2 linked regions of the Homo sapiens genome follow. The protein of the gene in region 2 interacts with the protein of the main gene of each other region in a biochemical or structural test. Each region holds a gene or a part of one and is shown on either strand. Other genes may lie near its edges.

Region 1 (3,381 bases), on a different chromosome or scaffold from region 2:
TCGAACTCCTGGGTTCATGTGATCCTCCTGTCTTGGCCTCCCGATGTGTTGGGATTATAGACGTGAGACACTGCGCTGGGCCCCCTCTTTTTCTTTCAAAATCAAGGGTCAGACTCTCCTCATTTCTCCGTGAGTGCTGCTGACTCGGCAGTCCGGCAGCCCTCTCTACACATTCCTGCATACACCCTCCTTTACTGTCTGTCTCCATCCTACCTTCACACTTTCCACTGAGCCGTGTGTGCTGACTACTCTAGGAGGGGTGGGCAGTCCTTCCTGCCAAGCCTGGGTTTCTAACTTTGTGGCTACAAAACTCCAGGGAGTTTTGTAGGAAGGGAGAGGAGCAGGAAGGGGGAAGAGAAGTTAACATGCTTTAAAAAAAAAAAAAAAAAAAATTTTTTTTTTTTTTTTTTTAAAGACAGGGTCTCACTGCGTTGTCCATGCTGGTCTTGAACTCCTGGGCTCAAGTGATCCTCCCGTCTCAGCTTACAGGTGTGACAGAGGCTCTTGATTAGGGAAACTGTCTTACAAATCGGAATCTGCATAACACCCTGGGATTCCAGTGTGAGTGCTAAGGGTCCTCATTCCTCCCACCCTCCTACAAGGCCACTTACCACCAGGGCTCAGCTCGGTACTGAGGAGCCGATCCATCGTGGCAGGTATAGCAGTTAGGGGTAAAAAGAAGAAGAAAAAAATCCATGAACATCAGCCTTAGTGGCTTAGCAGATTTTTTTAGGAGTGTGAAATTTATCTGTGTATTACTAGAGAGCGAAAACATCATTCACTTATTAAAAAAAAAGAGAGGAGAAAACCAGAGTCCTATGAAAATGTTTTTAATTTTCATCTTTTGGAAATACATTTTTCATTTTTATTTCCACCATACAAAAATGTGAAATATCTAACAATGATCTATCTGAAGCGGGTGGAGCAAAGCAGCGCCATGAGCGTTTGTCGTTGCTGTGATCTGTTTCAACGGAGAATGGGCTGGGACATGTTGTAGATTTGCACGATTTCACACACACACACACACACACACACACACACACACACACACACACACAGACACGTACGCACACACGCTGCCGTACCCCGAGACCGCCATCCAAACAAACGAACAGAGACTCTGGAAAGTGAACACAGCGCCACGCATAAGAACAGAAGTTAACCTTTTTACTCGTACATCCCCCATGAGAAACTCACGTCTTAGGAGAAAGGAACTCTACATAAATATGCCCAAAGGCCAGGGCATACGGCAAGCCCTCTCATGGGTGGGCATGAGTGGACATCTTCCTGAAGGAAGGACAAGCTTGAGAGCGTCATGTTTTCAGGCAGCTATGGTGGGAAGCAGGGAGGCACAACCGATTTTTCCACTGGGAGACTAACCGAGGGCTGCAACTGCCTCAAAATCTCAGTGCGAGAAGATGCACAGGCAGGACAGTACACCCCCAAATTCATGATCACAGCAGCTGGAATGTCAGCTCTTTTTGCAGATTTCACAGCCGACACTCCCCATCAGGCAGGTTCTTAAGCACACTGGGTCATGACAGGAAAGGCCTCACAAGAGCAACACGGAATTCACTGGTTAAGCACGTACACATTCATGACAGCCTACAACCGTGATGAGTGTCAATGTCAACAGGCAGTTAGATTAAAAAGGGGAAAAAACCACAGCCACAAAAATAAAACCTGTTTTCTCCCCCCCAGGAGACAACTTGGTTTCCAACCCCTCCCATACCACATTTGATTAAGTTAAATACAGTGCGGCTTCCAAATGTGCCAGCCGGCTCTTGCTCACAGCGACAGCACCAGCGGTTTGCTGCCCTCAGGTCTTGGTTACCATGTGTCAGGAACTTCAAAGAGTGTGGCAGGGCTGTTCTTCGAGATGCTTCCTGGTGGGAAAGAACAAAACAATATGAACAGCAGGACCAGGACGGCACCTTGAGGAGAGCATGACATGACCAGCAGACAGACAGAGGGCCTGTGACGGCTGCAGACGGGGCCAGCGTCTGGCTAAACAGCTGCGCTGGAAAGAGTCCACAGACAGGTCTTGTCTAGGGAGGGCAGTGCCCAGCATGGGAAAGTGAAACCACAGAAACATCATGGGGGCGCGGAGGAAGCACCTCCCTGCCTCCAGCATCTATCTATTTATTTCACAGGAGTTAAACTGTAGCCATGCACAGTATTCCTCACTGAACACCATGCTGGATTCTTTGTTGGCAATACAGCGGGCATTTAATTCATATAATCTTCATTAAAAGCCCACCAAGGTGGTAACACTACCCCATTTTACAGATGCAAGAACAGATTGAGAGAAGTGGGGTAATATGACCAGATGTACAGAGCTAGCAAGTGGCTGAGATGGGGTCTGAATCCTCCCACAGCACCAACATCCCTGCCAAAGTCCCTGGAAACTGAGTTTCTCTGTGCTGTGCTGTGGCTCTGCCTAGGTGAGAAATCTCAGGTGGGCAGCTGAAGGGCAGAGGGAAGCCAACCAGTGGGGGTTCCAATATCTCAACAGGGGCAAAAGAAGGTTGCAGCTTTTTCCAGCTTCGGTGAAGCTGGCTGGGGTCCTCTTCTTGGATTGAAAAGATCTCTTCAGTGACAAAGTTTCACCCCAATGTCAGAAGCCCTTCTTTTTTATTCATGCCACTTTCTACAATACGAGCAGCTGCGGCCAGCAACTGAGCTGGGACTGGACTTCAACGAATGTGAGGGAAGTCAGGAAAGAGCATGTTCATAATGGAAAGTGTGGCCCGACCAGGCGTCAGCTGCACAAGTGGTGCCATGCATTAAGTCATAAAGTAGGGCTGACGGGGGAAACTGGCAGTCTCTCTTCTAGCTGCTAACACCAAGATTTTAGAAAGGGAGAGAAGTCTTTGATGATACCTCCAATGGGAAATAACTTTTAAATACAGAGGGGGTGCAGTGTCTTACAAACTAGGGAATCATATCACTGAGTTCACAGTGGTTATCATCAGTAACAGGGATGCTTAAAAATAACGAGGTCTGAACACAAGAAAAAACATGAAGAGAATTTCAGCTAACATGAGAATTTCTACTTCTGATCATTTACTGTGATAAGATCCAGGGAGTTAGGGTGAGGAGACCGGGAAAGGGTAACCGGACTCTTTCTGCCCTGGGTCTCATCGCTCTGAACAGGCACGTTCTGGGACACCCAGTAAAGATGGCGAGACCACTCTGGAGAAGTGAAGATGGGCAGGAGATGATCCACTGAAAAGGACTCATGGGGTCCAGTGAAGTACTGCAAGGGGCCTGTGATAACCTGCAGCTAGCCTGGCCTTCCCAGTCCCACAATGATACAATAAACACCTAACTGTATGAAAAGAAACATCCATTAAGGGCACTTTTATAATTCACATATGA
Region 2 (3,821 bases):
TAAATTTTGTGTGAGTAGTGCCCATGGAGCTATGCAATCAGCAGCCCTGTCCATTTCTGTGGACAAGCTGGAAAGCTGCCAACAACATGTTAAACACTAGTAGTTAGAATACTCATGTACCGCTACTCCCATTCTTTTAACTTGAGTTGTTTACTGATCCTCAGTTGCTTGTTCCGAAACCTGTTAGTACCAGTAGTATTCATTAGTCTAATAATGTATTATGTAAATGACAAAATAAGGGTGCAAAACCAAGTCGAATGCTTTGGAAAGACTTGATCAGAAAAAAAAGCTGTCATATCAGCTATAAAGAGGAAAGCTTCAAAAGATGGGAAAAAGGAGCATAAAACATTAGGATTTCTCACTTGCTTCACATGTTTCTAAGCTCTAATCTCAAGTCTTCAATTAACAATTTCAGTTCTGCATATGATGCAGCACAACGGTATAGTTTATCCTAAATAATGGGAACGACAGTCAGTATACGTATATTCAAAGAAAAGTCCTGAGCACTATATCAAAAAATTGGTGGAAAAAAGGACCACGTTTTACAATTCCTGCTTTAACTAGCTTTTATTAACTGAATTACTGATAACTGCTTTATTTAAAAACCATATCATTCGAATAATCTCTATGTTTTTTAAATCTACCATTCTAAAATCATTACCAAGCATCTGTCTTTTTGATTGCTCAACAATTCAAGTTGAATGAAGGTGTGCTAAAAATTAACCTCAAACACCTGTCTATTAAGACCCTTGCTGTTTGTATCTCTTACCACTTTGTTTAAAGCCTTAACACACTCACCTAAGTCCTTTTGTGGTATAACATAAAGCTTAAAAAATTAAAATAATAGTGTTAAGTATGGAACCTGATGCTGCTGCTAAACACTTTGGCTAGTCTAATACAATCCAATTTTCGACTTCCATTGATTCAATTATTTGGTCGGCATATGGACAAGAAAGCAAGAGCCTGTAACTGTGCAGGGAATCGGTATTAATAATGAAAATCTGCAGTTGGATATATGGTTACACAGTAGCAAGTTACATATAACTTCAATCTTCAGATCTGAACAGCCAAAGGAATTATTGTTACAAAGTTCATAATCACTTACTTGCCTATGGAACACTTGGCTTGAAAATGATGTATGGTGATTCTCATAAAACACAGCACCTGGCTATTCTAAGCTTGGAATGTTAAATCTATTGAATGACTGAAATGATCTTCAGATACCACATGAACTGAAGCTGAATAAAACGAATCTATTACTATCCACATAGGATCTGAGGGGGGGTATTATAAAGGTTACAGGGTAAGACACTCTGTACGTCAACTTCCCAACCCATTAATTACCATGATAACCTGACTGAATGTCCACTGACTATAATTTTGAAAGGATAATGCCACAAAAAGTATAATACGCATGCAGCATGAGAGCTGAGATGTATTTATTCCTGGAGATATCTGCCTGTGTAAAGTTGTAGACATGTGTGGCACAGAGGTTCAGGGACCTTGATTCTTAAGTATAGATCAAACCTAAGTCACAGGACCTATCAAGGTTCCACCACCCAAAGTGCCAAATTTCACACAAAGGTCTTTCATTTCCAGGATTCACTTATTGAAAAAAAGCATAATTGATGTAATATTTACGCAAGCTGCCAGCTAGGACATTCAAATAGCCTTCTTCTACAGCAGTAGTTCTCAACAGGGTGTAGATTTTGCCCCCAGTGGTCATCTGGCAAACCTTGGAGACATTTTTAGTAGTCAAAACTAGGGGAAGCAACTGGCATCTAGTGGGTAGGGGCCAGGCATGCTGCTAAATATCTCACGTTGCATAGGGCATCTCCCAAAACAAATAACTGGCCAAGAATGTCAATAGTGCTGATGTTAAGAAACCGTATTCTAGAAAGCAGAGCTCCTCAGAACCAAATTTCAGTGAGGTTGGGAGAATGCAGATGCTGAAAAACTAGCTGAATGAGAGCAGTTATTTTTTGTTGCTGTTTTTTAAACCTTAAGCACACTGTTCCCTTCTTTCTGGCTCATCTATTTTGCCAACCCTTTATTCCACCTCTACAGTCTTCCTAACTTAACTTTCCAGCTGGCTTGTTCCAGTTTGGAATCATACCACAGCCTTTAAAGCAACCCTCCTAGGCCCTCTTATAAGCTTGAAAAGGGGAAAATAGTGCTGTGGGAAGAGAAGGTATGATTTCTGAGAAACAACTAGAAAATACATGTACATAGTCACATCTCTGAACTGCAAACCCTTTGTTCATTTTGGCTATATTAAAGGACAATATTTGTCTGGAGAATGGGAGGAGGCAGAAAGTATTAAGAGGTAAGAAATGTTCCACTTTCACCTGATAGTTGAGAGACTATAAAGGGGTGAAGACTACAGACAAAATCTGAACTTACGAACAGAAACATGATATTGAACTCATAAGACAACCTGGGTAAGGGAACAGGGAAATGAAATAAAACAATACGAATACAATTTGGGGAATTCGCTCAATGTACCCTGAAGAAAACGTATCTATGGTAGTTCCCAAGGCAAGAACAGATTTTTTATTAAAATTTAACTATGTAAAAGTTTTAAAATGTAAATTAAAGATAACATTACCACTTCACTCAGACAGACTTGGCTAGTATAGAGAAGCAGGTATAAAATCCATCTGAAAGGATCTTAATAAACCAAATAAATTTCCCCTCTATAAGTCAATCCTAATTTTATACGGGTACACTGTACATCTTATAGCCTTACAAGAAATTTTAGACCCACAAAATGGAAAACAAAAACCAACCCTGTAAAATAGAAAAGTAAAGTAACTAAAACCAACAACTTCAACATTACGTTTTTAAACCTTAAGCACACTGTTCCCTTCTTTTTGGCTCATCTATTTTGATATTGAACAACTTGAAAGATAACATGCCTTGAGCCCGCAGACTTAAAACAGGCAACCATCACTTCTGAAATAAACTATACTCTCTCAAAATAACAAATCCTTTCACTTCTATTTTTTTCTTTAGTTAAGTAAAAAAATCAGCCACAGTCCAAAAGACAAGGACCTAATTCTAAGAAGCTTAAATGGGGCTAATACAGCAAATCTGAAATTTTTGTAAATTGCCCAAATTCCCAAAATTGTATTCGTATTGTTTCTAGCTAAGATTTTGAACAATCTAAATACTTTCTTAAAAGAACAAACAATGGACTGCATATCCCATAGTAACTAAAAAGCTTCAGAGACATTTTTAAAGCAAGTCTAAGCAATTAGTTAAGATTTAGCACTGGACTAGTATCCATACACATTACTTTCCATTTAGCATTTCCTTTTCCTTGTTTATAAATGGACTACTACATGAACTTCATTGGTATAGCCTCCTAATCCTACCCCCCTTAATCTTTGATAGTCGAGTCTCAACACAGAAGTATAATTTTATAATCTCCCTATAAGATGCAACCCTCTGCTATCTCTCTAATCTTATCTCCTACAACTTCCCCCTCACTCACTCTGCTCCAGCACCACTGGCCTCCTTGCTCTTCTGTTAACATGACAGGAACCCTATAGTCTTCAGGCTTTTGTGCCCATGGTTACCTTTGGATCACAGCTTTTCCCCATACAGCTATATGGCTGCTACCTTACCTCCGGCAAGTCTTTGTTCAAATGCCATTCACACCGAAGCCTTCTCTAATCAACTTACATAAAATAGTAACTTCTCCCTCACAGAAATCTCTCCCCTCTTTACCTGGTATCACTCCATAGCGCCTGTCACTATATGATACACTATACTTTACTTGACTGTCTTCTCTCTACTCTAGAGGGGAGGCTCTATCT

The links.
Region 1: the proteins of NCBP1 (region 2) and PARN form a complex in vitro, tested with the Homo sapiens proteins (one study listed by IntAct).

Annotation. Positions count from the first base shown.
Region 1 is NC_000016.10:14,434,887-14,438,267, forward strand, and holds the end of PARN (poly(A)-specific ribonuclease PARN), read right to left. Parts: intron 1,887-3,381; coding exon 1,831-1,886; 3' UTR 815-1,830; downstream 1-814. UniProt on the Homo sapiens protein: 3'-exoribonuclease that has a preference for poly(A) tails of mRNAs, thereby efficiently degrading poly(A) tails.
Region 2 is NC_000009.12:97,636,752-97,640,572, reverse strand, and holds part of NCBP1 (nuclear cap-binding protein subunit 1), read right to left. Parts: intron 1-3,821. UniProt on the Homo sapiens protein: Component of the cap-binding complex (CBC), which binds cotranscriptionally to the 5'-cap of pre-mRNAs and is involved in various processes such as pre-mRNA splicing, translation regulation, nonsense-mediated mRNA decay, RNA-mediated gene silencing (RNAi) by microRNAs (miRNAs) and mRNA export.